7 linked regions of the Homo sapiens genome follow. The protein of the gene in region 5 purifies or fractionates together with the protein of the main gene of each other region. This does not show direct contact. Each region holds a gene or a part of one and is shown on either strand. Other genes may lie near its edges. The genes, in order: P2RX4, ENTPD7, FAIM, HAPLN3, B3GALT5, SLC30A6 and BDH1.

What was found.
Region 1: the proteins of B3GALT5 (region 5) and P2RX4 purify together in Homo sapiens (affinity purification with mass spectrometry; one large-scale study listed by BioGRID and IntAct). This does not show direct contact.
Region 2: the proteins of B3GALT5 (region 5) and ENTPD7 purify together in Homo sapiens (affinity purification with mass spectrometry; one large-scale study listed by BioGRID and IntAct). This does not show direct contact.
Region 3: the proteins of B3GALT5 (region 5) and FAIM purify together in Homo sapiens (affinity purification with mass spectrometry; one large-scale study listed by BioGRID and IntAct). This does not show direct contact.
Region 4: the proteins of B3GALT5 (region 5) and HAPLN3 purify together in Homo sapiens (affinity purification with mass spectrometry; one large-scale study listed by BioGRID and IntAct). This does not show direct contact.
Region 6: the proteins of B3GALT5 (region 5) and SLC30A6 purify together in Homo sapiens (affinity purification with mass spectrometry; one large-scale study listed by BioGRID and IntAct). This does not show direct contact.
Region 7: the proteins of B3GALT5 (region 5) and BDH1 purify together in Homo sapiens (affinity purification with mass spectrometry; one large-scale study listed by BioGRID and IntAct). This does not show direct contact.

What each region holds. Positions count from the first base shown.
Region 1 is NC_000012.12:121,226,952-121,231,101, reverse strand, and holds part of P2RX4 (P2X purinoceptor 4), read right to left. Parts: intron 2,570-4,150; coding exon 2,489-2,569; coding exon of another isoform or gene 2,485-2,488; exon of another isoform or gene 2,474-2,484; intron 2,378-2,473; coding exon 2,236-2,377; intron 2,140-2,235; coding exon 2,003-2,139; intron 1-2,002. UniProt on the Homo sapiens protein: ATP-gated nonselective transmembrane cation channel permeable to potassium, sodium and calcium. CTP, but not GTP or UTP, functions as a weak affinity agonist for P2RX4.
Region 2 is NC_000010.11:99,697,267-99,701,416, reverse strand, and holds part of ENTPD7 (ectonucleoside triphosphate diphosphohydrolase 7), read right to left. Parts: intron 2,884-4,150; coding exon 2,559-2,883; intron 445-2,558; coding exon 359-444; intron 1-358. UniProt on the Homo sapiens protein: Catalyzes the hydrolysis of nucleoside triphosphates and diphosphates in a calcium- or magnesium-dependent manner. Preferentially hydrolyzes nucleoside 5'-triphosphates, with substrate preference for UTP > GTP > CTP.
Region 3 is NC_000003.12:138,625,544-138,629,693, forward strand, and holds part of FAIM (fas apoptotic inhibitory molecule 1), read left to right. Parts: intron 1-3,563; coding exon 3,564-3,613; intron 3,614-4,150. UniProt on the Homo sapiens protein: Plays a role as an inducible effector molecule that mediates Fas resistance produced by surface Ig engagement in B cells.
Region 4 is NC_000015.10:88,881,697-88,885,846, reverse strand, and holds part of HAPLN3 (hyaluronan and proteoglycan link protein 3 isoform 2 precursor), read left to right. Parts: intron 1-4,121; coding exon 4,122-4,150. UniProt on the Homo sapiens protein: May function in hyaluronic acid binding.
Region 5 is NC_000021.9:39,657,704-39,661,853, reverse strand, and holds part of B3GALT5 (beta-1,3-galactosyltransferase 5), read right to left. Parts: intron 4,070-4,150; exon of another isoform or gene 3,973-4,069; coding exon of another isoform or gene 3,961-3,972; intron 2,102-3,960; 5' UTR 1,942-2,101; intron 1,295-1,941; coding exon 362-1,294; 3' UTR 1-361. UniProt on the Homo sapiens protein: Catalyzes the transfer of Gal to GlcNAc-based acceptors with a preference for the core3 O-linked glycan GlcNAc(beta1,3)GalNAc structure. Can use glycolipid LC3Cer as an efficient acceptor.
Region 6 is NC_000002.12:32,203,336-32,207,485, forward strand, and holds part of SLC30A6 (zinc transporter 6), read left to right. Parts: exon of another isoform or gene 1-883; intron 884-1,254; coding exon 1,255-1,357; intron 1,358-3,550; coding exon 3,551-3,598; intron 3,599-4,150. UniProt on the Homo sapiens protein: Has probably no intrinsic transporter activity but together with SLC30A5 forms a functional zinc ion:proton antiporter heterodimer, mediating zinc entry into the lumen of organelles along the secretory pathway.
Region 7 is NC_000003.12:197,521,298-197,525,447, reverse strand, and holds part of BDH1 (D-beta-hydroxybutyrate dehydrogenase, mitochondrial precursor), read left to right. Parts: intron 1-2,666; coding exon 2,667-2,808; intron 2,809-4,150.

The sequences.
Region 1 (4,150 bases), on a different chromosome or scaffold from region 5:
GCAGGAGAATGTCTTGAACCCGGGAGGCAAAGGCTGCAGTGAGCTGAAATCGCACCACTGCACTCCAACCTGGGTGACAGAGCAAGTCACTCCCTTAAAAAAGAAGAAAAAAAAAAAAATATATATATATAATGGCTATATATATAATGGCTATATATATATATACACATATATACATATACATATATGAGAGAGAGAGAGAGCGAGCACGCGAGAGAGCGCACACGCATGAGCAGGGGATGGATGGTTGGTGAAGAACCGTCAAGACATACCATCTGCTGCCCCATGTTCTCCAGGGATCCATCAGGAGCCTCGGCCCGCACCCTAGCTCCATGCTCTATCTGGCCCACAACTTCCACGCCATGGGCCAGGCCTGGGAGACACAGGCAGGGCCTGGTGCTGCCCGAGGTTGGGGGATAGGCGTCCTGAGTTCTTTCCGTTTTAGGGCTCTGACCTAAGCTTGAGGTTTCCACAAGAAGTGTGTGACAGTAGAGATGGAATAACACAAATCTAACTGCTAGAAAAGAAAAATTCAAATATCTGCTTTACTCAGTGAGCCAGAAGGTTCAAAAGGACAGCAGATCCCACAATTACAGAGGTCTTAGGATCCCGTATGGATCGGATTCCACACGTCACCACTAGGGGGAGGCAAGTGCAGCCCAAAGCACCGCTGACCGCGCCCAGGGATGGTCCTTGCAGGGCCTCTTTTTTTTCCCCCTGAGACGGAGACTTGCTTTGTCGCCCAGGCTGGAGTGCAGCAGTGCGATCTCGGCTCACTGCAACCTCTGCCTCCCTGGCTCAAGCGATTCTCCTGCCTCAGCCTCCCAAGTTGCTGGGATTACAGGCATGCGCCACCATGCCCAGCTAATTTTTGTATTTTTTTTAGTAGAGATGGGGTTTCGCCATGCTGGCCTCAGGTGATCTGCCCGCCTTGGCCTCCCAAAGTGCTAGGATTACAGGTGTGAGTCACTGCGCCCGGCCTGGAGCGCTTCCTTTTTAAGGACTGTGAAAAATGCAACAAAGGGTACGTGGAAATTTACCTGGCTATAGATTCTGATCATGAGATCATCAGCTGTAGTGGGTTGAACAGTGTGTCCCCAAAAATTCACATCTACCTGAAGCTTGGGAGTGTGACCTTATTTGGAAATGGGATATTGGCAGACGTAATTTGTTAAGATGAGGTCATACTAGAGTAGGGTGGGCCCTAAATTCAGTGACTGATATCCTTACAAGAAGAAAAGACACAGAGACACATACAAGGCAGAAGGCCTCATGACAGGAGAGGCAGAGACTGGAGTGATGCATCCACAAGCCAAGGAACACCGTGGGCTACCAGAAGCCAGGAGAGACAAGTAAGGACTCTCTCCAGAGCCTTCAGAGCGAGCACAGCCCTGCTGATGCCTGGATTTTAGGTTGTGGCCTCTAGAACTGTGAGAACTGTGAGAGAATCAAGTCCTGTAGTTGCAAGCCACTGTTTGTGGGACTCGCTTACATCTGCCCCAGGACACCGAGATGCCAGCATTTGCAGCAGGGAACCCAGCAAGGCCTTTCAGGGGCCTCAGACCTGTGTCCCCTGCACTCTGGAGATTCTGGCACAGGTTCAACCTTTGAGAAACCAATTCCTGGGCCAGGCCCCAGAGGCCTTTGGACTGGAGGATCACAAGATCATCCGCTCCTTGAGGCAGTGAATGGAGGTCATGGCTGAGGCAGGTGCTGGAAAGCTTAAGCCCCCAGCTTCTCCTGGCTGCTCTAAGAACCATCTCAACATGTTTCTTGCGGCAGGAAAGGGCAAGGAGGGGTCTCGGGGGCCGGGATGGCCCCGGAGCAGGACACCACTAAGGGCATTTTCCCAGCATGGCCTTCCCGCCGCCTTGGACGGGGGACCGGCAGCCTGCCCTTGGGGTGCTGCCTGAGTGCTGGTCTTCAGTGGGCGGCCCACTGGCACGTACGCAGCCACCAGCACCCCCTACAACATGAGCGAGGGGCCCAAGCTCACGCCCACCTGAAATTGTAGCCAGGAGATACGTTGTGCTCAACGTCCCGTGTATCGAGGCGGCGGAAGGAGTACCTGGGCAAGCAGAGGGAGGCGGCTCTGTCCAGGTTGCAGTCCCAGTTGACCTGGATGCCCATGATGCCTCCCTGGGGATGAGCAGCAGAGACACGGCAAGGCTTTCCTCAGCACCTGGCACGAGACGCCTCCAGGGCTGGGTCAGGAGAGCCAGGGCCCGCACCCACCTCCACGGCCATGTCCTGGAAACTGTGTCCTGCGTTCTCCACTATTTTGCCAAGACGGAATATGGGGCAGAAGGGATCTGTTTTAGCATCATAAATGCACGACTTGAGGTAAGTAGTGGTGATGTTGGGAAGGATATTCCTCCTAAAGTCGAGAGGAAGCAGAAAATCAGAGCGACGAAAACCTCAGAGAAGAGAGAAGAGCCAGAAGTTTCTCCAAGACCCTGGTGAACTCACACACCTGGCCACCACTTACTTGCTGAAATTAAATTTGGGATACCAGATGTTGTTCTTAACCAAAAGAGTGAAGTTTTCTGCAGCCTTTAAAAAAGCAGGTCTGAAAAACAATGATAACATTACTGTTAATAAAATACATACAAATACTCACATAACCATGTTATATATATATATATACACACATATATATATGTATTGTGTGTGTGTGTCTGTGTGTGTGTGTGTGTATATATATATATATATATATTTTTTTTTTTTTTTTTTTGAGATGGAGTCACTCTGTCACCTCGAGTGCAGGCTTGAGTGCAATGGCGCGATCTCAGCTCACTGCCACCTCAGCCTCCCGTGTAGCTGGGATTACACAGGTGTGAGCCACTATGCCTGGTTAACTTTTTTTGTATTTTTAGTAGAGACAGGGTTCCACCATGTTGGTCAGGCTGGTCTCCAACTCCTGGCCTCAAGTGATCCGCCTGCTTCAGCCTCCCAAAGTGCTGGGATTACAGGCATAAGCCATCACGCCCAGCCTATATATATTTTTGAGACAGGGTCTTGCTCTGTTGCCCAGGCTGGAGTACAGTTGCATGAACACAGCTTCTTGTAGCCTCGACCTCCCAGGCTCAGGGGGTTCTCCCACCTCAGCCTCTCAAGTAGCTGGAACTATAGGCATGCATCACCATGCCTGGCTAATGAAATTTTTTTTTTTTTTTTTTGTAGACATGAAGTCTTCCTACATTGCCCAGGCTGGTCTTGAACTCCTGACCTCAAGCAATCTTCCTACCTCCGCCTCCCTGTGCTGGACTACAGGAGTGGGCCACCATGTTCAGCCCCTATGTAATATTTTTAAAAACATATACACACATCTTACAATGTCATTTTGTCAAGAAGATGAAACACGTCTAGCATTTTCTACACCCTTCTGCATGCACACTCTTCTCTTCCAAGAGAAGACACTGAGCCGAGCCTTCCAGGTTCTTCCCCTCAAGGAAGGGCAGGCCCTCTCCCCCAAGGCGGTGAAAACTGAATTGCTAACCAGGGAGGGGATTTGTGGCCTCACTGGAAATCAGTAGGCCTGGCTTTGGGGCCGCAGGCGTTCTCCAGGGAGAGAATGAAGGCTGGGCAGATCCGGTTTTACAGGTCAAAGCAAAAGTAAATTTGCCTACAGGCTGGATCCTGACCTGTCTGAAAAGTGCACAAAGCACCCGCCAGCAGGTGCGCCGGCCTCTTCTCAGAAGTGCCACGTCAGCTCCTGGCTGACAATACAAGTTGAATCTGTCCCCAAGGGGACTCCATTTCTTTGGTGAATTTCTCCTGGAGAATCTGGCACTGTATGGCTAACCCTTCTGTGGGGGATGTTCCCCTGATCCAGGTGGGATCTTTGGAATGACAACATCAACAGTCTTCCCAGCCCTGAGACAGGAGCAAGGTCAGTGACAGGGCTGCACTCGGAGGAGAGCTGAGCCTGTCACCACTGCTGTCAGAGAAAGGCTGGGACCAAGGGGCTTCTCTCAGGTTTTTTTTTTTTTTGAGATGGAGTCTTGCTCCTGTTGCTCAGGCTGGAGTGCAATGCCGCGATCTCGGCTCACTGCAACCTCTGGGTTCAAGTGATTCTCCTGCCTCAGCCTCCCGAGTAGCTGGGGTTACAGGCGTGCACCACCACGCCTGGCTAATTTTTTCATATTTT
Region 2 (4,150 bases), on a different chromosome or scaffold from region 5:
ACTTGGGGGGCTGAGGCAGGAGAATCGCTGGAACCCAGGAGGCGGAGGTTGCAGTGAGCTAAGATCATGCCACTGCACTCCAGCCTGGGCAACAAAGTGAGACTCTGTCTCAAAAAAAAAAAAAAATCACTTTTGTTGTCAAATCACTTGTTGAGAACTCTGTTTGGTAACCACTGATTTCTTCTGGCTTTGCTATAATAGGCTCACTATTTTGGCCCCTATCCCTGAGAAAATCAAGTCTGGAATAATCAAATGCTCCCTCAACATGAAATCTAATCTGCATTATTGCTCACTCTCCATTATAATCTGCCATCTAGATTTTAAGTCCACATCTAAGGAGGAAAGGGAAGTAACTTACTTGAGTCGATGCTCATCTGCATGTGATGAAAAGAGGCCATTCTTGAATCTCTGAGTTAGTACCGACCAAGCCATGCCACAGTAATCCTGGATCAACCACAGAGAAATAGTGCAACATGAATTTGGAGGCAAACTCTCTACCTTCCCCACAGTCACAGCTGTTCCATTTCTAAAGTTACTTGTGGGCTACCAGCTGACAAAGGAAAACAGAAATGGTGTGTTCATTCACTAAACACTGCGTCATACCCCTGTTTATTCCCGTCATCCCATGTCTAGCACCAAGCCAGCTTGATGTGGCTTCTGAGCCTCTTAGGCTTCAGAGGGGCTGAGGTTAGGACTAACAAATAGCAACGTCAAAAGACAAAGATAGTTTCATTCTACTCCACATAGGACTGACATGAGCAGGGAGAGCAGATGGAAGAGGATGGTTAGAAACCTGTCATTGGCCTCCCTCGGTGTTGTAATTCTCACCAAAATAATCATTCCTTTTGGTTTGTATGTCTGCTATGTGCCAGGTGCTGTTCTAGATGCCAGGGAATCATGCAGTAAATAAAACAGACAAAAATTCCTGTCCTCAGGAAGCTTACATTCTAGTGGTAGGAGACAGACAATAAACACACACACACACACACACACACACACACATACACACACACACACACACACGGTACGTTGGATAACATAAATGCTCAGGGAAAAATAAAGCAGGAAAGGGCAACAGGTAATATGGGGAGCGTTGTCATTTTGGATAGAGTGGTCCCAGAAGGTGGCTCTGGGAAGATAACGTTTGAGTCAAAGTTAAAAAGGTAAGGGAAAAAAATCGCTTTTACCTGGAAAAGATAATATGTTAAGCCCAATAACTTGAGCCTTTTGGTGTTCAAGGGAATAGAATTTGAAGAAGTTTTGAGATAAGAGAAAGAGTCAGGCCATGGATAGTTAGGGAGCTCTGGGCTCCAGAAAAACAGGGAGCGTGAAGGTCGTCCTGGAGGCTGGAGAGAAAGGAGCAAATACAAACCAGGTGTCCCACAGTATTTCTTAAGGACTGTCTTTTGGGAACAGAACAGTACAGATACTGCAGATATTATTTTGCTGGAAGCCTTACACTAAGAGAACCCTAGAGAATTGTAAGAAAGAAAGAGAAAGGTAGGCAGGGAAGAAGGAGGGAAGGGAGGGAGGGAGGGAAATATGAGGAGAGGCTGGGTACGGTGACTCACGCCTGTAATCTCAGCACTTTGGGGGGCCAAGGCGGGCAGATCACCTGAGGCCAGGAGTTCCAAACCAGCCTGGCCAACATGGCAAAACCCCATCTCTATTAAAAATAATAAAAATTAGCCAGGCATGGTGGTGGGCATCTGTAATCCCAGCTACTCGGGAGGCTGAGGCAGGAGAATCACTTGAACCCGGAAGGCAGAGGTTGCAGTGAGCTGAGATCATGCCAATGCACTCCAGCCTGGGCTACAGAGCGAGACCCCATCTCAAGAAAAAAAGAAATATGAGGACAGATTCTCCCATTCGTTTCTCTGATGAAAAAGATAGAGACACGCAACAATTCAAAGAGATGGCCCTAAATAAAGCAGAAAATGATAGAAAGCTGGCTAAACTTTCATCTGTCCAGGTACCAATGATTTAAACTTATATGATGCTTAAGTCCTATATATGCTCAGAGTGAATTTTTACTCCTCTATTTTAAATCTAAACAAACTTCCACCATCATTGCTTTTTACAACATCTAATATTCCCAGGGACCCCATACCACTCTGCCTCTTAATACCTCAACCCAAAAGAAAGATGGGCTTGCCCCTCTGGGTGATATCATCTCCAAAAGCACATTACAACAGAAAATAGCTAGCAAGAGGAAAAATACTGGAGGTGACATTTCTTGGGCATAAACATTAAACAAGACTATTGGAAAGTTGGAAGAAAAACCATTAGCCAACACAAAAATTTTATGCCTGGGTAATAATTTGGGTGGTATGACATCCATGGAAAATAAATTTAGTTAATTAGAAGGCAGTACAGCATAGCTAGATCCTTAAGTTCTCTGTCCACTTCCTCATCTGTAAAATGAGTGTTCAAAGGGCTCCTGCAAAGAACAAGTGAGATTCTGTATGCAAAGCCCTTTGCACAGCACCTGGCACAGAGTGAGGCATTCAATAAATGGCTGCTGCCAGCATAAGCCATGTTTATCATTAATAATTTACCTGAGCAGCCTTGGCAAATGTTGGCCCATGGTAGCGGCCACCAATGCGCAACACATCCTCTGTACAATAAAAAAACTCAGAGAAGCCGTAGAACTCGCTGTTGTTGAAGTCAATAGGCGATTGATATATGCCATTGAGTGAGGCCTGGCTGGTGTTGGAGCGAGCCAGCAGGGGGCTCAGCATTGCCCCACAAGACACCCAGTCTCCTCTTCCTCGGACATGTAAGACTTGGCTGTTCCTCTCCACCACATCTGTGAGTCCCACTGGCAGGCAGGGATCCAGAAATGGATTGTCGGGACTCAGACCTGTCTTCTGACCAAGCAATCTGCCACAATGACAAAAACAAACAAACAAACAAACACGTCATGCCTGTATTCAACCTAGTCTAAGAAACACAATGTGCATCAGAAATATCTTACTACTGGTTTTCATGATATCTCTAGAAACGAGGATGGAGTGCAATTTCATCACATAAACATTTAACTTCAGCAAGTTAAATTTAGAAAAAAAAGAGAGGAATATGGTGATCAATTCTGTTCGACATTTTAGTCAACATGTGTATTTCCTAGTCTGTAGTGAAATTGGAGATGTGAATCTGCTGTTCTCCATCTGGTCTTCATTCCCACGTACCTCCTAAAAGTGCAAGGACCTTATCGTGCGGAGTGTGGTTCTAATGTTTAAAAATACAACTGGTAGGGGGTGAGGTGGGAAGGACTGTGGGGAGAGATTCCTGAAGAGCAGACCACGGCAGTGGCCCATGTGCAATGGCTGGCAATGGTGATGGAGCCCATGCCTGCCTCTGAATGAGCAGTGCTGGAACAGAACAGGCACAGCACCAGCTCCAGGAAGCCACCTGCAGAGCCTGGAGCCTCTGAGTGGGGAGAAGACTGGAAAGCTTTGATTCCCACCATGGCCGTAACACAGGTCCAGTTATTTTGAGTTTATACTTGCCTAGCAACCATATTCTCATTCCTCAAAATGATGAGTATGAAGATCTGTCCAAGGACAGAAATTAAGTTGGGGTCCAAGTAACTTTGCCAATTGCAGTTAATTATTCATCAGTTCCTAAACAGACAGATGTTGAAGAGTGGACTTCTTAGAATGAGGATGCGCCCACAGGTGTAAAGACCGAGGGTGAGAATGGAATGAGGCAGTACAACAGAACACTTTACAACAACTGGAACCGACTATTTTAAGGATGTGACACCAACTGTAAGGAAAACTCAGAAAATTGTTATTGAGAAGAGACAATGATCATTTTGCCATCTCAGGAAATAGGTTAATAGACTGGCAGCTACACAAGATATGCCTTTTACTCATCAGTCACCTGATGTAGGTGACTTAGCTACTTGGCAAGAAAATACCAACGCATGGGAAGAAGATGCAGTCTGGCAAGAAGTAGTTTGGAGGCAGCAGAAAACAGCAGACAGAAAAGAAAGGAGTAGAACAAAAGAAGAAAATGGAAAAGGAAGCACAGCAGCTAATGAAGAAGGAAAACCAAAACTGGTGTGAAACTTTCAAAACAAATGATCTTCAAACATCATGGTGCCTGCAGGAGACATCTGAGCACCTCAACCCAAGCAATGTTTGTA
Region 3 (4,150 bases), on a different chromosome or scaffold from region 5:
TAGAGTCTCCTGGTAAAATTCACTCTTGTATGTTATGTGGCAAGTTTCAAATAACAATATTATATGACTTGCTAAATTTTATATTGAGAAATTAGAGCAAGGCCACAAAAAAGCTTTGAATAACAAAACATTATGATTTACTAAGGTCATATTATGTGCCAGATACTATACTAGGCACTTTATATAATTATTTCTAACCCTTATAACAGCCTATGGGAAAGGTGGTATCATCTTCATTTGCCCCTGAGGAAATGGAAGCTCAGAGTGGTGGTGACTTGCCAAAGGGTACTGCTAGTAAAGAGTGATGCTGAGAGCTGACCTCAAAGATCATGTGCATTTTTTTTCACCACCTAAAAAATGTGAGGCATATAAGGGCAATGAAAACAGGGTTGGTTAGCATTCTCAGCTCTTGTAGTCTCCACACCACTGAATACCATGGGAGGAAAATAAAGCTGGCAGGAGGAAAGTACATATGAAACTTCACGCTGGAAGGAAATTCTCTTTCTGTTCTGAAAAGTTTCTCTTTGATAGCATTTACAGAACATAACCTGCTCAGGACTCACCTGGGAAGTCCCTAGCTATTGTTCATGCGGCTGAGGGAATCCGCAGGCAAAGAGGAGATGCTCCAAGATGAACATGCAGCAGCAACTCCCATGAGTCACTAAATCCAGCACTGAGTCATAATAGATTTGAAATTTTATCAGCTAGATATGTCCTTTTATTAACATACCACTTTGAATAGGTTACATACTCAAGATTCAGAAATCAAAATGCTATTAAAAGACACATTAAAAAGTCTTGCTTCCATCCCTGTTCCCATCTGCCATGTTCCCCCATCAAGATAACCATTTTTAGTGTCACTCTAGTGTTTCTTTATTCAGATTCAAGCGAGTACACATATTCTCTCTTACCACATAAAAGCATCTTGCTTTATTCACTTATTATATTCCGAAGATCCTTTTATATCAGAACCTAAAGAACTTTTTCATATTTTTTATAGCTGCAGAGTAAATTTCAATAGTAAATGGTGTATTTAGCTCATTCCCAACTGATGAACACTTGAGCTGTTTCTAATCTTTTGCTGTTAGAAGCAATGCTGCATGAATAGCTTTGTTTGCATGCCTCTTGGAACAGGACACATATTATATTAGTACACATTTCTGGAAGTAGGAAAGTAGGACTTCTATTCTTCTGGGTCAAAGACTAATTGTATTTGTCATCTTAATAGATTTTGCCCATTTGCCTTCCATGGTACTTTTACCATTTTGTACCCCCGTTAGCTATTTTCCCCAGGTTCTCCAGCAGAACATGTAGCCAAACTTTTGGATTTTTTGGCATTCTGCTAGGTGAAGCAATGGTATTTCAGGGTTGTTTTTGTCTTTTTCATAAGTGAGGTTGAGCATCTTAGTTTTAAGTTTCTTTTGTATTTCCTTTCTCATGATGCCTGTTCATGCCCTTTGCCCCATTTTCTTTTGGTTGTTGGTCTTTTTCTCCTTGATTTCTCATAGTCTTCACATTAGTAAGTTTAGTCCTTTGTTCATGCTGTGAGTTTGACATATTTTTTTCAGAGTTTGTCATTTATTACATGACTTTGCTAATGTGTGTGCATTTTTCTTCAATTGTGCTGTGGCTTTTTTACTTTTTTTTTTTTTTCCCAAGACAGGATCTCACTCTGTCGCCCAGGCTGGAGTGCAGTGGTGCAATTTTGGCTCACTGCAACCTCTGCCTCCTGGGTTCAAGCAATTCTCCTGCCTCAGCCTCCTGAGTAGCTGGGATTACAGGCGCCCGCCACTACGTCCAGCTAATTTTTTGTATTTTTAGTAGAGACGGGGTTTCACCATGTTGGCCAGACTGGTCTTGAACTCCTGACCTTGTGATTTGCCTGCCTCAGCTTCCCAAAGTGCTGGGATTACAGGCATGAGCCACCGTGCCTGGCCTTTTTTTGTACTTTTATGTAGTCAAATTTAATACATTTTCTTTTAGGGCTTCTGGATTAGTAGTGTTCTTCAGAGGCATGCTAATACGCTATTGTAGAAACTCTGAGTACACGTACATGTTCAGTAAGCATAGCAAGTAAAATACCAGTTTCTACCATCATCGTGGTTTATCATAGCACTGTGTGCACTGATCATGTCTTGGGACAAGTTGAGTTTACCTGCACCTGTGACTATAGCAGCTTTCTATGAAGGCTGCCACTGAGGTGACCCCTGCCCATATCTCCTGGACCCCTCTGGCTTTCTCTTTTTCCATCTAGCGCACCTCAAAGGCTTTTCTCCCATCTCTAAGTGAGGCTCCCATCTCAAGGTATGGGGAGAGAAAGAACCCCCTTTAGACTGTGCTCCTGGAGCAGATGGCCAGGCAGTAAGACCCTGGACTGGTGCCTCAAACCTGACCCCCAGACTCCTTGTGCACATACAGGCCATACTTCCTTCTCTTCTTCACTGTAATACCCAAAGCTCAACTTCTGGCTTCTTGATTAGTGTAGTCTTCTCTCCTGCTACTCCTGAGGACACTAACATTTGCAAGGGGCTCTGGGGACTCCTCCACCCTGAGATGAGCTATGGCAAGTTAACTGATCCATTTAAGTGTGTCGGGGCAGCATTTTGTTCCATATTGTTCCTTAGTGTGCAGTCCACCAGCTATACCTATTTTTTACTTGTAATCCAATAATTTTTCTCTAAACTGAAACCATTATGAAAAGGAATAGACATTATTGTACTACCTAGTAAGAAGCTGGACTAGATTTCTAAAGCGGACATGCTGTCTATCCTATATAAATCCCGTGGCAGCTGCTTTCAGTGGTCTTTTGTGCCATCACCCAGTTGGGTGAGTGTGGGAGGCAGGGGAGTCATCTGGTCAATATTGAAGGGCATTTTGTATGGAAGGGTCCCTCCTCACATTCATCTGTATGCATCCTTCTTTTTTATTTATTTATTTATTTATTTATTTATTTATTTTTGAGATGGAGTCTTTCTCTGTTGCCCAGGCTAGAGTGCAGTGGTGCGGTCTCGGCTCACTGCAAGCTCCACCTCCCAGGTTCACGCCATTCTCCTGCCTCAGCCTCCCAAGTAGCTGGGACTACAGGCACCCACCACCATGCCCGGCTAATTATTGTATTTTTAGTAGAGATGGGGTTTCACCGTATTAGCCAGGATGGTCTCGATCTCCTGACCTTGTGATCCGCCTGCCTCAGTCTCCCAAAGTGCTGGGATTACAGGCGTGAGCCACCGCGCCCGGCCTGTATGCATCCTTCTTTAAAGATTGTCCTTTTGGATTCATTTTGTTTCATAAGGCTTCATCAATTTGTATTAAGACCATAACTTTCTCTTAAAAGGTTGTTTTGTTTCATTATAGTTTTATGAACAAAGAACAAACACAGCTTCTTCAAATTTTAGGAGAGTCTGCAAGCCATGAAAGCCATGAAAAAGTGTTGGGTTTTGGAATATTAATGGAGTTTTAGAGATCTGGTATATCAATCCTTTCCTAAAGTAATAAATAGGAAAAGTTAACTTTATCTTTAAATCACAGAATTATAACTTAAAGTTTTTATGTTACCTTTACAGAAAAAGATGCTATGGACGTATGGTGCAATGGTAAAAAATTGGAGACAGCGGTAAGTTGACTATTTGATGACTCTAAGTGCCATGTGTCTCAGTTACCATTGAATTGTTGCTGCATTTCCTAATTATAGAGATCTTATAATGAATCAAGGCCCTCTTGATAAAAACAAAAAAGGGATTAAGTACTCCTGACTTCAGATTCTGAAAACCTTTGCCAGATGGTGCCTGGTACCGTGAGTTTGGAAACAACTCATGTTCTTAGCTGGCACTAGCTTCATACTCTCCCTTTCCTGTCCTGGACCAGGCTCCAGCATAGCAAGTAAAATACCTAAAAAGAGCCCCTAGTTAAAAAATTATATCCCCAGAGGTTGGTGTCCTCTTGTGTTGATCCATTTGAAGTGGTGCGTTATCACTGCTTCTCAAACTTGCATGCACAGAAATTGCCTGGAATCTTGTTAAAATGCTAATTCTAACATTTCCCTAGGTGCTGCTAATGCTACTGGTCCACAGATCACACTTTAGGAATGCTTTACACCATACACTCAAAGCAGATGGTTCTTTTCTGAAAGCGAGATTTTTGTAAAATGAGT
Region 4 (4,150 bases), on a different chromosome or scaffold from region 5:
GGGAGACTGAGGTGAGTGGATCACTTGAGGTCAGGAGTTCAAGGCCAGCCTGGCCAACATACCGAAACCCTCTACTAAAGATACAAAAAATTGGCCAGGCGCGGTGACTCACACCTGTAATCCCAGCACTTAAGGAGGCCGAGGTGGATGGATCACGAGGTCAAGAGATCAAGACCATTCTGACCAACCTGGTGAAATCCTGTCTCTACTAAAAATACAAAAGTAGCCGGGCGTGGTGGCAGGTGCCTTTAATCCCAGCTTCTCAGGAGGCTGAGGCAGGAGAATTGCTTGAACCTGGGAGGCAGAGGTTGCAGTGAGCTGAGATCATACCACTGCACTCCAGCCTGAACGACAAAGTGAGACTCCGTCTCAAAAAAAAAAAAAAAAACACAAAAAACAAAAAATTAGCCGGGTGTGGTGGCGTGCACCTGTAATCCCAGCTACTCAGGAGGCTGAGGCATGAGAATTGCTTGAACCTGGGAGGAGGAGGTTGCAGTAAGCTGAGATCACACCACTGCACTCCAGCCTGGGTGACAGAGTGAGACTCTGCCTCAAAAACAACAACAACAAACTTGTTCCACTTGTTTGTGGAAGGAACGAACCAGATGGCTGGTCTCAGTAATAGCCAGCACCTGCCATGAAGAGCGCACAGCCTGGTTCAGAGACGACACATGAGCCTGCAAGTGCAGTGCTGGGTGTTTCTCACCTTTCCCTCTGCCTTTGAGTAGATGATTGTGCCTGCAGAGGCATTTTCCCTCTTTTGATTAGTCTCCTAGGTCAGCTGTAACAAATTAACACAAACTTGGTGGCTTGAAACAACAGAAATGTATTCTCTCACTGCTTTAGGCACCAGAAATCCAAAATTAGTTTCACTGTGCAGAAATCGAGGTGCGGATAGGACTGTACCTCCTGTGGCTCTTGGGGAGAATCTGTTCTTGCCTTGCCTCTTCCGGTTCTGGTGGCTGCTGGCATTCCTTGGCTGTAGCTGCCTCACTGCAGGCTCTGCCTCCTTGGTCACGTGGTCTTCTCCTCTTTTATATGCAAATCTCCCTCTGCCTCCCTCTAAACAGGTACTTGCGCATTTGCATTTAGGGCCCACCTGGGAAATTCAGGATACCCTCCCCATCTCGACATCCTTAGTTTAACCTCATCTGCAAAGTCCATTTTGCTACATAATTAGGATTTAGGGTATTTTGGGAGGCCATTATTTAGCCCACCACACCCTTTTCCTTCAGAATTTATTTTGTTATACAAGCCCTACTTTATTTATTTATTTATTTATTGAGACAGAGTCTCGCTCTGTCACCTGGGCTGGAGTGCAGTGGCGCGATCTCGGCTCACTGCAAGCTCTGCCTCCTGGGTTCACGCCATTCTCCTGCCTCAGCCTCCCGAGTAGCTGGGACTACAGGCATCCGACACCATGCCTGGCTAATTTTTTGTATTTTTAGTGGAGATGGGGTTTCACCGTGTTAGCCAGGATGGTCTCGATCTCCTGACCGCCTGATCCGCCCGCCTTGGCCTCCCAAAGTGCTGGGATTACAGGCGTGAGCCACCGTGCCCGGCCTACAAGCACTACTTTAATGAGATTTGCGGAATTTAAAAAACTTAAACTTCCTACTCATAGTTTCACTACACTACCAGGCCAACATTTCATTTTTGTCTTTCCCTTTTGTCCCTGAATATGTAAGCAAAGTCATATATAATCCCCCCACCCAGGGGAACCACTGTTAACTTTTTAGGTATCTCTTTCTAGCCTTTTCTTTTTTTTTTTTTTGAGACAGGGTCTCACTCTGTCACACCAGTGCAGTGGTGTGATCTCGGCTCACTGCAACTTCTGCCTCCTGGGCTCAAGAGATCCTTCCACTTTAGCCTCCTGAGTTAGCTGAGACTACAGGCGTGCACCACTGTGCCCAGCTAATTTTTGTATTTTTAGTAGAGATGGGGCTTCACCGTGTTGGCCACGCTAGTCTCGAACTCGTGGCCTCAAGTGATCTGCCCGCCTTGGCCTCCCAAAGTGCTAGGATTACAGGCGTGAGCCACTGCACCTAGCTGAGCCATTCTTTTATGATTTAGAAAACTTTCTCCAACAAAAACCAGCTCATGTCATACATGTGATTTTTGTATTCTCCCTTATCACCTCATAGAATAGAACTCGTTTTCTAAGTCAATGATTGAATGTACATCTACCAGATTATTTTACATGGCTGTATAGTATTTTATCATATGGATGTACATTTTCATTTTATTCAGGTTAAAGCTTCAAAGGTAGTTTACTTAAGAGAGTTGGGAAGAACCAAGGAAGTGGCCCCTAAATGATAGCCCTGCTTCATATTTATTGGACACTTTCTGTGTGCCAGGCATCCTGCCTTACCTGATTTGAACCTTACCACAGCCCTCTGTAGGGACTGTAATTAACCCATTCTACAAATGGGGAAGCTGAGTCTTGACTTCCCTGGATTACACAGCTGGGAAAAGGTGGAACCAAGGGCAAGCCCGAATTGCCTGACTCCAAACCTCTGTACCTACTGCCTCTGCAGAGCAGGACAGCTCTAATCTGAATGAGCCTGAAAGTCCCCTGGAGGCTGGACCCCATTCCCAGAGTCTCTGAGGCACTGGGACCCCACAATGTGCATTTCTGACAAATTCCTGGTGATGCTAATGCTGCTGGCCCGAGGGCCACACTTGGAGACTTCTGCATATGGCAATCTGCTACATTAGGTATAGCTCTTTTTTAGCACGATTCCTCTACAGGGAACCTCCCTGTCTGTCTCCTGCTTACCCATGAGGCTGTCCCCTTGCCTCCACCTTTTTAATTAATTAATTTGTTTTTATTTTGTTTTTGGCAACAGAGTCTTGCTCTCTCACCCAGTTTGGAATGCAGTGGTGCGATCATGACTCACTGCAGCCTTGACTTCTGGGCTGAAACAATACTCCCACCTCAGCCTCCCGAGTAGCTGGGACCACAAGCATCTACCACCATACTCAGCTAGTTTTAAAAATTTTTTTGTAGAGACAGGGTCTCACTTTATTGCCCAGGCTGGTCTCAAACTCCTGGGCTGAAGCGATCCTCCTGTCCTGGCCTCTCAAAGTGTTGGGATTATAAGCGTGAACCACCGTGCCTGGCCCCTGTCCCCACCTTGAGTAAATCAAGCATGTCTTGAAGTCTAGACCCAAGAGAATGAATCAGTGAGGTCCCAACAGGGGCTCCCAAGTTAAAGATGAGGCAGCCTTAGCCTATGAACTTGATTCTTTTGTTGCATGTTGAGTTCTGTGTGTATTTGTAACTCTGAGCCGTGAGCGTAGTCTCCTTTAGAAGTTCTGCCCTTAGCTCAGTAGGCTGCTCCGTATTTGGGAAGAGTTATGGTGGACAGCTGGACCAGAGAGTAAAGCCAGGGCTGTGCTGTCCTCTGGCCAGTGTGGTGGGGAAGGAAACTCCGACGGATCCCTATCAGGGCCACTTGTCCTGGCCATGTACCTCATGTGGGGTGGCTCTTGTTGCCTGCTCCATTGGTTAGATTTTATGCATAGCAAACCACCCAAAACTTAGTGACTTCTTTAGGATGACAGCCATTTGTTTAGCTCATGATTCTGTGGGTCAGCATTTTGGAGTGGGCTCCATTTCTTCAGGTCTTGCGGTTGGGTCTTGCAGATGTGCCTGCCCATGGTGGGCAGGTCAGCTGGGGGCTGGTTGCTGTAGGATGGCCTCAGCTGGGGCGCCCTGTCTCTGTTCTGTGTATTCTCTCATCCTCTAGCAGGCAAGCCTGGCCATGTGCTCATGGTGGCTGGCAAAGTCCTAAAAAAAGAGTGGAAGCAGCAAGGCCCCCTGGGACCTATGCTCAGAGCAGGCATGATGGATAACAGTCACTTCCAAGGCATTCAGTTGGTCAAGCAAGTGGCAAGGCCAGCACAGATTCAAGGGGGTGGGGGAATAACTGTCATCTCTTGATGGAAGGAGATGCAAAGTCACATTGCAGAGCATGTGGATACAGGGAGGGGTGGAGCATGGTGGCCATTTTTGCAATCTGAGCCTGTAGGAGCCGTGGATGAGGGTGTGCGGTGGCCCTTGCAGGGGTACAGATGTGCTTCAGCAGGTCTCATCTGCACCCTGTCTCTCCCCCAAGACCTCCTTAATGGAGTGAAGCTGGTGGTG
Region 5 (4,150 bases):
CTATGCCTACTGGCTGTGAGCCTTGGGACAAGTTTCTGTACCTCTCGCAGCTGCTGTGTCCTTGCCTGTAAAATTAGGATGGTAACACCCATCATGTCATAGGATACTGACCCCTGAAATGCAAAAATCCAGGTGTATGTCAAACACTTAGTATGAAGAGTGTGCGTGCCCAAGAGACGGGCCTATTATTGCCTGGGGCACCAAGTGGGAACTAATCAGTGACTTCATGAACACCGACATTCTGGCGTGGATTTCAGCACTGAAGAACAGCATCCTCTGTCCCGCCCCCTCTTCCAAAATCTAGCAAAAACTATCCCCACGGGTTATCTGAAACTTGTCCGGATGTGCCTCTGGGCTCCCCTCAGACAGGCGGACAATCTTCCCCCCGGGAATTCTCTAGAGCCTGCCAGTAGTCCAAGAGAGTCCGAGGCTTGATGAAGTGGCAGGCCACGATCCTCCTGAAGAGGCATACGGAGAAGCGTAAGCCCCCTGGAAAAAAGGTCGGCTGGGAGTGGAGCTCCTCCAATCTGATGTTCAGCCTTTCGAGGCAGAGCCCCACAAACACGTCTTCCAGTTTAATGTATGGGACGCTCTTGGAGACATTGTACACCTGACTCGCCACGTCGCCAGAAAACACGTAGCCGGTGCCGGAGCAGAATGGTGGGTACCTGTCCCACGGATATTCAGATTTACTGACAAACCACTTGCTGAATGGCTGCCTGATGGGAAACTCATTGAGTTTCAAGAAGCCAGTGAAAAACCTGGTTGTTCTGTTTTTCTTCAGAAGCAGTTCAGTCAGATAGTCAACATTGATGAACATGTCTGAGTCTGTTTTCATCACAAACGCCGCCTGAGGACAAAAGCGATGGACCCATTCTATGCCCATCATGGTCTTCAGGGTCAGATTGTAATAGACGTCTAGGAAATCCTTCTGGATAATGTCCCCGTGTCGCTGGCTCTCCTGGTCCACCTCTTTCGTTTCCGCTGCACTGCTGGTGGTCCCCAGGAGGAAGAATGTCTTCAGCTGCTTTCCCTTCACCATCCTCTCTTTCCCCCACGTCTGCCGGATGGCCATGCGCTCAGCCAACTGTTTGTGGGATGAGGTCACCAGCAGGACGAGGAAGGGAGGTGTCTGCCTGCAGTCTGTATCTGGGAGCTTAAGGAAGTTCCCGTCTTTCTTGTAAACAAAGGACTGTTCTTTGAAAGGATTTAGACTGTACATGCTAAAATACAAACAAAGAGCCCCCAGAACCAGAAGGCAAATATACATCAATCTCATCTTCGGGAAAGCCATCTGAAAGGAACAAAATCCAATGATTAGACCTCAAAAGCATGAGGATGTGTCTAGTTTTATGCTAGGAGGCTGAGGTGGGAGAGGAGACCCGTGTTTTGGAAACTCTAGAACCTCGCTGCATACAGAAGTCGGGTGCTGTGTGGTTAAACAGTTAAGCACAAAGGTCTAACATCTGCCAGCATCTGTCACTTCATGGTGTAAGATAAAAAGCTCAGAGATTCTGGGCATTGGTCCAGGCTCTGCAGCCCTTAACCTACGGGAGTCTCCAATTGCCTGTCTGTAGGGATATGGCACCAGGTCCCTCACTCGGTCCTCCAGCTCTGCCCTTCTATGACTCCATGATGAAGCGCAGCAAAACAAGCTGCAGGTCTGGAAACCACGCATTGTAGATCTAAATGTATGGACCACTTGCATTCTTCTCTGATCTAATTAAGCAGCATTCCTGCTCCCAGAAAAAAGCAAGTCCAGTGTTCTGATGTGCACAAGTACCTTCAAATTCTGTCTCTGCCAGAATTATTTTTTTTTAAGTTACTTTTTACAGTCTCTGATCTGATTCTTTCCTGTTCTGCCCACCCGTCTCTGCTATCCTCGGCAAGTTCAGGATCATCCATGGTAACGTTATAACATTAAGAAAGCGTATAACTCACTTTTTGCTGGGTAAGAGGAACCTCTGGTTTGAAAGCTAAAGCCACAGTGTAAATGCCAAGAGGAAATTTGTCTCAAAGAACTGTCAGTGTAGAATGCTCCATAATTATCAGGTTCTGGGCTTGGTTTGTTTACCAAAAATGGTGATTCTGACAGGAATCACTAGGAAAAAAAAAAAAAGAGTGTCATTCAAATCACTCGTGCCTTACCAGCAGGCCTTCACAATTTACCGTGTCTGTAGCGTCACCTTCCAACCTACTTATGTGACTCTGAGCACGCATTTGAGCCCCAATCCCAGCCTCACTTTTCTCATCTGTAAAATGGGTATGATCAAGGCAAACAAAGTCCACAACAGTAACAATATGCCAATCCCCCAGAATCCTTCAAGCCTAATAAGTTAGGATAGCACCTAGCAGCTTTTTAAAGAGACATGATAAACTCATAAATTAGAGTCTCACTTCTCATCCTGATAATTTACCTTATTTACATAACAGAGTCTGTAGTTAATGCTGAGAGAATTTAACACAGAGAATAAATCCAATTCTTAACACAATAGCGGCACTTTAAAAATGTTACCCTGGGTGAGAGGACAGAGAGGACAGCAAGAAATGAAACTGAAAGAGTGAAAAGCAGAGTTGGTTTGGGCTTTTTAATTTTAATATTTCAGAGACCTGATGTCACTCTGTCTCCCAGGCTGGAGCACAGTAGCACAATCATAGCTCACTACAGCCCTGAACTCCTGGGCTCAAGCGATCCTCCTGTGACTTGGGTCACAGCTTCCCAAGTAGCTGTGACCACAGGCGCATGCCACCATACTCTTCTAACTTTGTATTTTTTGTAGAGATGGGGTTTCACTATGTTGCCCAGGCTAGTCTCAAACTCCTGGGCTCACGCAGTCCCCTGCCTTGGCCTCCCAAAACACTGGAATTACAAGGGCAAGCCACTGTGCCCAGCCAAGAGCTGGTTATTTTGATGGCCAAAAGAGCACCTGAAAATTTCATTGTCAAAATTCTGTTCTACATATATTCGCCAAAAGCAATAGGAATATAATAATGGAGCTTTCTAGAACCAGCTCGCTCTCCAGGGACTTCTTTCCTGGAGGCAAACTTAGCCAACTACCTGCTCTGCTTGGCACCCCTGGGGAGTTCCTGCCCAGCTCCTGCCCCCAGCAACTTCAGAGAAATCACAGCAGAAGGCAAGCAGGAGACCAGAACTTGTCTGAACTGGTGCTCCAGGATGCTGCAAAGTTTCTTTCTTTCTTTTCTTTCTTTCCTTCCTTCTCTCCTTCCTTCCTTTACTTTTCTTTCTCTTTCTCTCCTTCTTTCTCTCTTTCATTATTTATTTGCATGGCTAAGATATGCAGCTGATTAGGGGGGTTGGGGGACTGCTTTCTCCCCCACAATACATTTTAGAGAGAAACATAAAAACCAAGTGCAAGGGAAAGAAGATATTTTTCTACTTTGTTTCCTTGCTTGAATAATTCTGCTCCTTTTCTATGGGTTGCTTTAACAGTAAACCTTAAATTCTCATTCTCTCTGATGTGCCTCTCCTCAGGACCCTTCACAGGGCTCTAAATTCCCAGGGATGGGCGCTCACCTCATGCAGTGCATTGGCCAAACTGTTTCCCAGGAGGCAGAGCAGGTGCCAAACCCAACTGGCAGAGCAGGTGCCAAACCCAAATGACCCGGGGTCATTTGTTTTCATGGGCAGTTGAACATTTTTCCTGCCTAAAGTGGAGTTACCACCAGAAGTCACAGCTCAGAATCCTCATATATGAGACATCTGCATCTTTGGCTGAGTCTGTATTGGGCCTAAAGAGGACCTGGGGGCCAGCCTTCCACTGAAGGAGGAGGTAGGGGCACCTGCAGCACCAGCAGACAGAGCCTGGAAAGGGCAGCCTGTGTCCCCAGATCCTAGCCACCCCAGGCCAGCTGCAAAGCAGAAGCCCTCAGCACAAGCTAGCTCTGCCTTACCTGGGACAGAGCCATGAACAGGCACTATCTGTGCTACAGAAGCCCTACCTCCAAACACATCTAGACCACCAGGCTGTATGGCCTGACCAGCCAGTCAATAACGGAATGGCAGTTTCTCCAGCAGATTCTGCACTCCAGGTGTATTAGTCAGGGTTCTCTAGAGAGATCGAATCAACAGGTTATGGATAGATAGAAAGATTGATAGGTAGATTAATCAAAAGATAGATAGGCAGGTAGG
Region 6 (4,150 bases), on a different chromosome or scaffold from region 5:
TGTGTAGGTATTCCTTCTACAATGGATTTAGTTAAATCTAAAAGCACGGATGCCATAAGGTCTCTGGCTTCTGTTTCTTATGCTGCTGTTGATTTTTTCCAACCATCAGCTCAGATACTGACAGAAGAGAAAGGGGCAGTGGATGCATTGGCTGCAGCTTTAGCCCACATTTCTGGTGCATCAGGCTTTGAACCACGATCTTTGATCACCTCTGATAGGGATTTGTGACCATGACTCTGGAAAGCCTAGAGGAAATACAGGATGTCAGCTGTGCTTGGAAAGAACTTAACAGAAAGCTGAGTAGTAATGCAGTGTCTCAGATTACCAGAATGTGCCTCCTGAAAGGAAATGTGCGTGTTTGCTTTGATGTTCCTACAACTAAGTCAGAAAGGTTACAGGCAGAGTGGCATGATTCCGACTGGATATTCTCAGTGCCAGCCAAATTACCTGAAATTGAAGAATATTATGATAGAAACACATCTTCTAATTCCAGACAGAGGAGTGGTTGGTCAAGTGGCCAGTCGGGCCGATCAGGTGGTCGATCTGGCAGCCGGTCAGTTAGACAGAGTCCACAAGGGAGTCGCTCAGGAAGTTGACAAGATGGTAGAAGATGAAGAGGGAATAGAAATCGATCAAGAAGTGGGAGCCACAAACGGAGTTTTGACTATTTGATAGTTAATCTACCAGTATGAGGTTGCCTATTTCTGCCTAATCATGTATATTATGCACCAAAAATTAGGTCATCATAGTTGAGGTATGTGTCTGCTATTTGCAAATAAATTGGTCATATTTTTTTAAAAAGTATTTCACAAGAATGATTGTAAACAGATCTACTTACCAGTTATACCTTTGAATTAAAAAACCTCTTTTTATTGTCTCTTTTTAAAAAAAAATTACTAGTTGAAGTTTTTTGTCTGTCTCAAGCAAATAAACATATTTCAGCTCTTTCTAGTTGACAGATAGTTTGACAAAAAAATGCCTGACGGGGAAATGTCCACATTTTTTTTCATCATACCTCTTCCTACTAATTAACATAATTATTAGTTATTTTTCCACTAAACTTTGAAAGGAAAGAATTCTAAAAACTGGAGTATTTTTCTTTGAAATGTTTCTTTGCAAGTAGTGGCCAATTGTGATAAAATTGTGTCCTGTTGCTCAGTCCTGTTGCTTTAGATAATTAATGTTCAGGAGATTTAATTGTAATATGCCCAGTGAGATATAAATTTAAAATTTAGAATTGTTTTTTCCTTTTAGTAATTATTTTGCCGTAGACACTGCCTCTGCTATAGCTATTGCCTTGATGACATTTGGCACTATGTATCCCATGAGTGTGTACAGTGGGAAAGTCTTACTCCAGGTAAGGTGCTTCTTCCAATGCACGTGCTTAATATTAGCCATGTTCTTCTACCAGATTAAAAAGTTGTATGTGTTGTTCTACAAGATTGTGAAATTTTTATTTTTATTTTTTAATTTTAATTTTTTTTTTTTTTTTTTTAGAGACAGGTCCTTGCTCTGTCACCTAGACTGGAGTACAGTGGTGGGATCTCGGCTCACTGCCGCCTTGACCTCCCAGGCTCAAAGGACCCTCCCACCTCAGTCTCCTGAGTAACAAACTACAGGCACACACCACCACACCCAGCTAATTTTTAAAAATATTTGTAGAGATGGGCTCTCACTATGTTGCCCAGGCTGATCTCAAACTCCTGGGCTCAAATGATCCTCTTGCTGCGGCCTCCCAAAGTGTTGGGACTATACGCGAGAGCCATCGTGCCCAGTCATAATTTTTAATTACAAAAGTTTTTTGGCCAGGAGAGGTGGCTCACGCTTGTAATCCCAGCACTTTGGGAGGCCAAGGCGGGCAGATCACAATGTCAGTAGTTCGAGACCAGCCTGGCCAACATGGTGAAACCCTGTCTCTACTAAAAAAATACAAAAATTAGCTGGGCGTGGTGGCGTGCACCTGTAATCCCAGCTACTCGGGAGACTGAGGCAGGAGAATTGCCTGAACCCGGGAGGCGGAGGTTGCAGTGAGCTGACATTGTACCACTGCATCCAGCCTGGGTGACAGAGCAAGACTCCATCTCAAAAAAACAAAACAACATTTTTTTTAATGCCCTCCCTTTAACAGTACAGATTGTGAAATTTTTAGTTACTGGAAGCCCCTGCTAGAAATGAAGTCAAACAATAATCTCTGACATTCATATAGTCAGAACCTGATGAAAGTCCATTAGCAAGTAAAATAGTCACAAATCTTCCTATATTTATATTGTGACAAAATCACAAATTTAAAGCTATTATTATTTTTCAAGTGAAAAGAATGTTACTTCTTTTTTTTTTTTTTTTTTTTTTGAGACAGAGTCTCTCTCTCTTGACCAGGCTGGAGTGCAGTGGCGCTACACTCAGGTCACTGCAACCTTTGCTTCCTGGGTTCAAGCGATTCTCCTACCTCAGCATCCCGAGTAGCTGGGACTACAGCCATGTGCCACCACGCCTGGCTAATTTTTGTATTTTTAGTAGAGCTGGGGTTTCACTACATTGACCAGGATGGTCTCAAATTCCTGACCTCAGGTGAGCCACCCGCCTTGAACCTCCTAAAGTGCTGGGATTACAGGCGTGAGCCACTGCACCCGGCCTGAAATTTTTTTTAGATATTTATTTTCCCTCAGTAAATGTGCTTTGGCTTTTGTGTAATCTGCTTATGACTATTTTATTATTTCCTGCCACTGAATCAGTGAGACTTTAAAATTTCAAACTTAAAATCTTAAATGACACATTGCTACTTACTGAAATGATAGGAACACCCTGAATATGAATAGAAAGGCAGTTTCCGGCCGGGCGCGGTGGCTCATGCCTGTAATCCCAGCACTTTGGGAGGCCGAGGTGGTTAGATGACGAGGTCAGGAGATCAAGACCATCCTGGCTAACACGGTGAAACCCCATCTCTACTAAAAATGCAAAAAATTAGCCGGGCATGGTGGCGAGTGCCTGTAGTCCCAGCTACTCAGGAGGCTGAGGCAGGGGAGTGGCTTGAACCCGGGAGGCGGAGCTTGCAGTGAGCCAAGATTGCGCCACTGCATTCCAGCCTGGGCGACAGAGCGAGATTCCAAAAAAAAAAAAGGCAGTTTCCCAGGGCCGGATGTGCGTGTAAGCACTGTGGTTCCTTCTGTCTTACCCTATGCCTTTTCCAAGACTTAGGGCAGTAGTTCCATCTCCAGAAAAAATAAAAATAAGATAATAGTTGCATAGTGCTATGCCCTATACAAAATACGACCTTTGTAACCATTTCCCAAAGATTTTTTGTTGGTTGGTTGGTTGTTTAAGTGTTATTTATCTTTTTATCTTATCTTCAAGATAAAAAAACAGGTGTGGGCCAGTTGATGATGTTGTTCCACTAGTGGGGCCAGTTGAAACCTCTCTTCTCTAAATCATGATAGGACAGCTGTCAAAGCAAAGGCTGGCTTAAAATCCTTTTGGGGAGGGGGTTCAGGACCATTGTTGGCAAACTTTTTTCCTTCCCCCATTATTCATATTTTATTGTATTTTTCCCCAGACAACACCACCCCATGTTATTGGTCAGTTGGACAAACTCATCAGAGAGGTAAGATGGAATAGTAAATAAAATCATTTTATTTTATATCAGGGAATTGAAAAGGTGGATACTTTTAATACTTTATTCAACTCTACCTAGAATTTTATTTGAGGGAAGTTCATGTTCTTCACAATAACATACTAGGAGCCATAATATAGTGGCAAACGTGGAAAAATATGAGGAATTGTTCAATTTGGAAATCAAATTCACTTGAAGTGAATGTGGAAGGTAATGGCCTAATGACCACCCTATTATAAATGCTATGATTTTTATTTATTTTATTTAGTTATTTAGTTATTTTTTTTTTGAGACAGTCTTGCTCTGTTGCCAGGCTGTAGTGCAGTGGCGCAATCTCAGCTCACTGCAACCTCCACCTCCCAGGCTCAAGCAATTCTCCTTCCTCGGCCTCCTGAGTAGGTGAGACTACAGGCGCGTGCCACCATGCCCAGCTAACTTTTTCTTTTTTTTTTGAGACAGAGTCTTGCTCTGTCGCCCAGGCTGGAGTGCAATGGTGCCGTCTTGGCTCACTGCAACCTCCGTCTCCCAGGTTCAAGTGATTCT
Region 7 (4,150 bases), on a different chromosome or scaffold from region 5:
GGACCTTGTCGTGATGCTGTGTAGGGGCACCAGAGAGGTCTTGTATAGGGGTCTGAGAAGAGCTGAATGATAGCAACAGGGTTAACCAAGTCCCAAGAGGAAGGACATTTAGATACCTCTTGTGCATGTCAGCTAGAATCCACCTTTCTGAGGTTCAGATCATGTGAGCTCCACGCCAAGGGGCATTTGAAGGGCCACCAGGTGGAAGACTGCATTAAAGCAAGACACGTGTTTTCCTGGTACCTGTGTGCCGCCTGTGGAAGAGAGGGGTCTGCAGGCACCACGTCATCACACCCTAGACCTGAAGATGCATTAGTTCTTTCTTGGTGGAGTCCTCTGTGGGAATGACAGCCTGAGCTCCAGGCCCATCTGTCCCGTGCATCTCATGCCTGCGTCTTGTTTGGGAAGGTCGGCGCACCTAGGGGATTTCAGAGCCAAACTTTAGACCATCGAGCCTCCGGCCTGGCTGCTGTGTCCGAAGGCATCCCTGGTGCCTCTGCAGAGACTTAGCGGGCCACGCCACAGTGCCTTTTCAAAGGGCCACTGGGGAGGCTTCCTTTCCATGGAAAACCAGGCGGTGAAGACGACAGTCCAGGAACGGAAGCGGTGTTAGGTAGGGGAGATCAGCCCGACCTCCTGTCCAATGCCGGGATTGTCTCTGTACCACCTTTCCCACACCCCATCCTCAAGCATCCCCCCAACCCCCAAACATCCCTCCTACCTCCAAACAACCCCCCACCCCAACTCATTGCCTCAACACCTCCAGGCAGCTCATGCCATCTCCAGACTGTGAAGATCACGCCTCATTTTGAGCTGAGCTGGACTTCTTGGTCCTGGCTCTGTTCTCTGTGGCTGCATGGAACAAGCTGGCTCCCTCAGTCATGTTCCACTCAAGTCTTCTCTCCGGGGTGACTACGTCCAGCACCTCCGGCCCCATTGGGCAGTCCCTTCACCATTTCCTCCTGTGCCCTCTGAAATTGCATGATGTGATTTCTCCATTCCCGGGGTTGGGGTTCTTCTGGTTGAAAGCATTCAGAAGGCTCAGCCTAACCAGCGGAGGACTTTCCACCCCTGACAAGTGCTGACCGTCCTGGGCTTTCCACCCTTGCCCGCGCCTGGGATGTTTGCTTCAGTAGCAGCTGTGTGTGCCATGGGCAAGCCCTTGGCTGGCGAGTGGGCATTTCTCTACCCCTTTACTCTTGGCTGCTAGTCCTGTCCTCTTACAAGAGGTGTCACTATGCCATGCACCATTCAGGAAAATTGCTGCCAATTAAGTCATTTATGACCAACTATGTTTAATTTTCACATCGAGTGTAGCTCATCCCTATTGTGAAAGAAACCATGTTTCATAGAATAGGATGAAATGTGACAATGCAGCCTGCCTGGTGACACGAGGGTGCACGTGACAAAGCACATCAGCACTTAGCACAGTGCTCAGGACAGTGGACACTCGGGAAATGCTGTCTACTTAGAGGAAAGCCCCCCAGCAGCTCGGCAGTGCCCACAAGCAGACCCCTGCCCTCCTCTCCAGCCCTGCATCCACCACCTCCTTATGCGTCTGCACTGCCTGCAACCAATGGCTTCTGGTGGCGTCCTCTTATCTCTTCCCACAGTGCCCCGTCCCCATCGGCCCCCTCTTGTGAATGTCCTCAGCTGTCACTGCCTTTGGAAGGTCTCCCCTGCCCGTCCCTCCTGTGCCCCTCCCACCTCCCGCCAGGTTCCATACAGCACACAGTCACTGTGTCGCTTACGTGCTCACCTGTCTCCTTCCCTAGAACACGACTCTGGGAACAGGGGCTGAATGATTGATCTTGACCTCCAGTTCCTAGCACAGTGCCGGAACACGATAGGGGCCCAAGAAATGTTTGCCGAGCGAGTGACGCCTTTCTCCTGTTTAGCAGTACCTGAATTTGTGTGGTGCTTTAGACTCTTTAACAGGCTTCTTACAAATCCATTTCCTTACTCCATTAATCTGAGCAGGTCAGGACAGGTGGTGATGTTCCTGTTTTACAGCCAGAAAAAATGGACCCCTGTTCAGGGACACCCCTGAGTGCACAAAGCCTACTCAGTGACTGAGCTGGGATTAGAGGCTGGCTCTGGCCTCTTACCAATTTGGAGTTGATGGGCCCTTGGCTTAGAACAGAGGTGGCAAACTGGCAGCCTGCTGGTCCTATGTGGCCTGTGGACGTGCTTTGGCCTTCACAGTGTTTTTTTGTTTTTTTTTTTAAATGTGTGTAAGTTGCCAACACTTAAAAGAATGAAGAGATTTCCCAATTACTAGCTTAAAAATGTAAGCATCTGGCAACCCTGGGTTTCCATCCCCACGTGGTAATTCCTGACATGTCCTGTACTCCCCAGGGCCCCCGCCTGCCCCACATAAGTTTGCAACCCCTGCTTGGAGAAGGAATCCTGTCTTGAGGCCTTGGGGGCCGGCTCTTCATCCTATTCATGGTTGTGTCTGTGGCACATAGCTTGATGCTTGATAGGTCATCAGTGCTCAGGATTAAAAAGAACCGCATGCTGGTGGGCCAGGCCCATGGGCAGTTGCCAGTATGCCTGAGGCTTTGGCTGGGACTTGAGGCCAGCTCCTGCCTTGACAGGAGTCCTCAGGGTCTGCCTCAGGGTGGGAAGGAAGGAGGTAGAAGCAGCTCTTCTCTCCTCCCCAGGACAAAGGCCATGATGGGGTCAAGGAGCTGGACAGCCTAAACAGTGACCGATTGAGAACCGTCCAGCTCAATGTCTGCAGCAGCGAAGAGGTGGAGAAAGTGGTGGAGATTGTCCGCTCGAGCCTGAAGGACCCTGAGAAAGGTAGGGCGCCCCTTCGGACGGCAGGGGTTGTGTATGGGGCCATTCCAAGGGGCACTTGCCGAACACCACCTTCCACTGGCTGGCATCCTGCCACCACACTCCCTTCCTTATTGTTTAGGCTCTTCCTCCTGCACAGTAGGAGGAAGAGGATTACACTAAACATACACGTGCAATAGGGCAATGGAAAAATACAGTCAGGAGGTGATTTCAGAGTTCACGGAGTGCTAGGTGGCTACGCACTGATTCAGGTCAGTTCAGCCAATGCCCATTGATGCCCCCTCTGGCCCAGGAGCTGGGTTGGGTGCCAGGGACACAAAGATGGTCAAGGCACATTCTGTCCCCAGGACCTCATAGTTCAGCCGGAGGACTGAGTTCAAAATCAGGGAGCCGTGCATTGAGAGAGGCAGAGCAGCACAGGAAGGAGGGGTCAGTCCAGCCATGGGGGCGCAGTGGAAATAGGCCAGTTAAGGCAGATTGTGGCAGAGAGCAGATATGGTTGTTCCAAGAGGAGGGGAGAGCAGGAACCACAGCTTCGAGGAGCACGGGGAGGGTAGCGGGGGCTGTTGGTCAAGTGGTGGGATTAGCCGGCACCTCAATATGAGTCATGGGTCAGGTCACGCAGAGGGGGTGGCAGCAAAGGAGGTTGGGGAGGGAGGTCTTGGATCCCAGGCGAGGGAACATGGCTGGTCTCCCAATGGCACTGGGGAGCCACTGAAGGGGTCATCCTGAGGGAATGGCCTGGTCATTGTGAGACTTGTGAATCTCCCTCTGAGGATGGCAGTGGCAATGTGAAGGTGGATTCAAAGCGGGAGTTAAACATGGGTTCTGGACTCCGGAACTAGGGTGGTAGGTGTTGGGAAACAGGAAGGGTCAGGTGCGAGGAGTGTTGAGAAGGCGAAGCTGCCTGGACTTGGTGACTTGGATGTGGGGATGAGGTGAGGCGCGAAGTCTCTGTCCTGGACACCTGGTGCCCCGCACTGCAGGAGCAGGTGGGGAGATAGGGAGACACTGAAGCGCCCACCCTGAGGGAATGTCCAGGCTAGAAGAGCAGGTGCCCACGGCAGGTGACACTGGGAGTCGGGGAGATGCACAGAGGGACCCCTGGGAATGTGAGTGTTCGGGGATCAGAGGAGGGGGAGAGGCAGCTGTCAGAGAGGTTGGATACAGTTCCCCAGAGGCTAAACAACAGAAAGTTTGGAGGAGAGGGCAGTACCAGTAGCCAACAGGGTCAAAAGCTACAGAAAGTTCCAGTAGCATAAGGACTAAAATATCCTTCCAGTTCAGCCAGTGGAGGGCCTTGTGGGAGGAGCTCTGTCTGCAACCTCGGGGTGCCATTCATGTA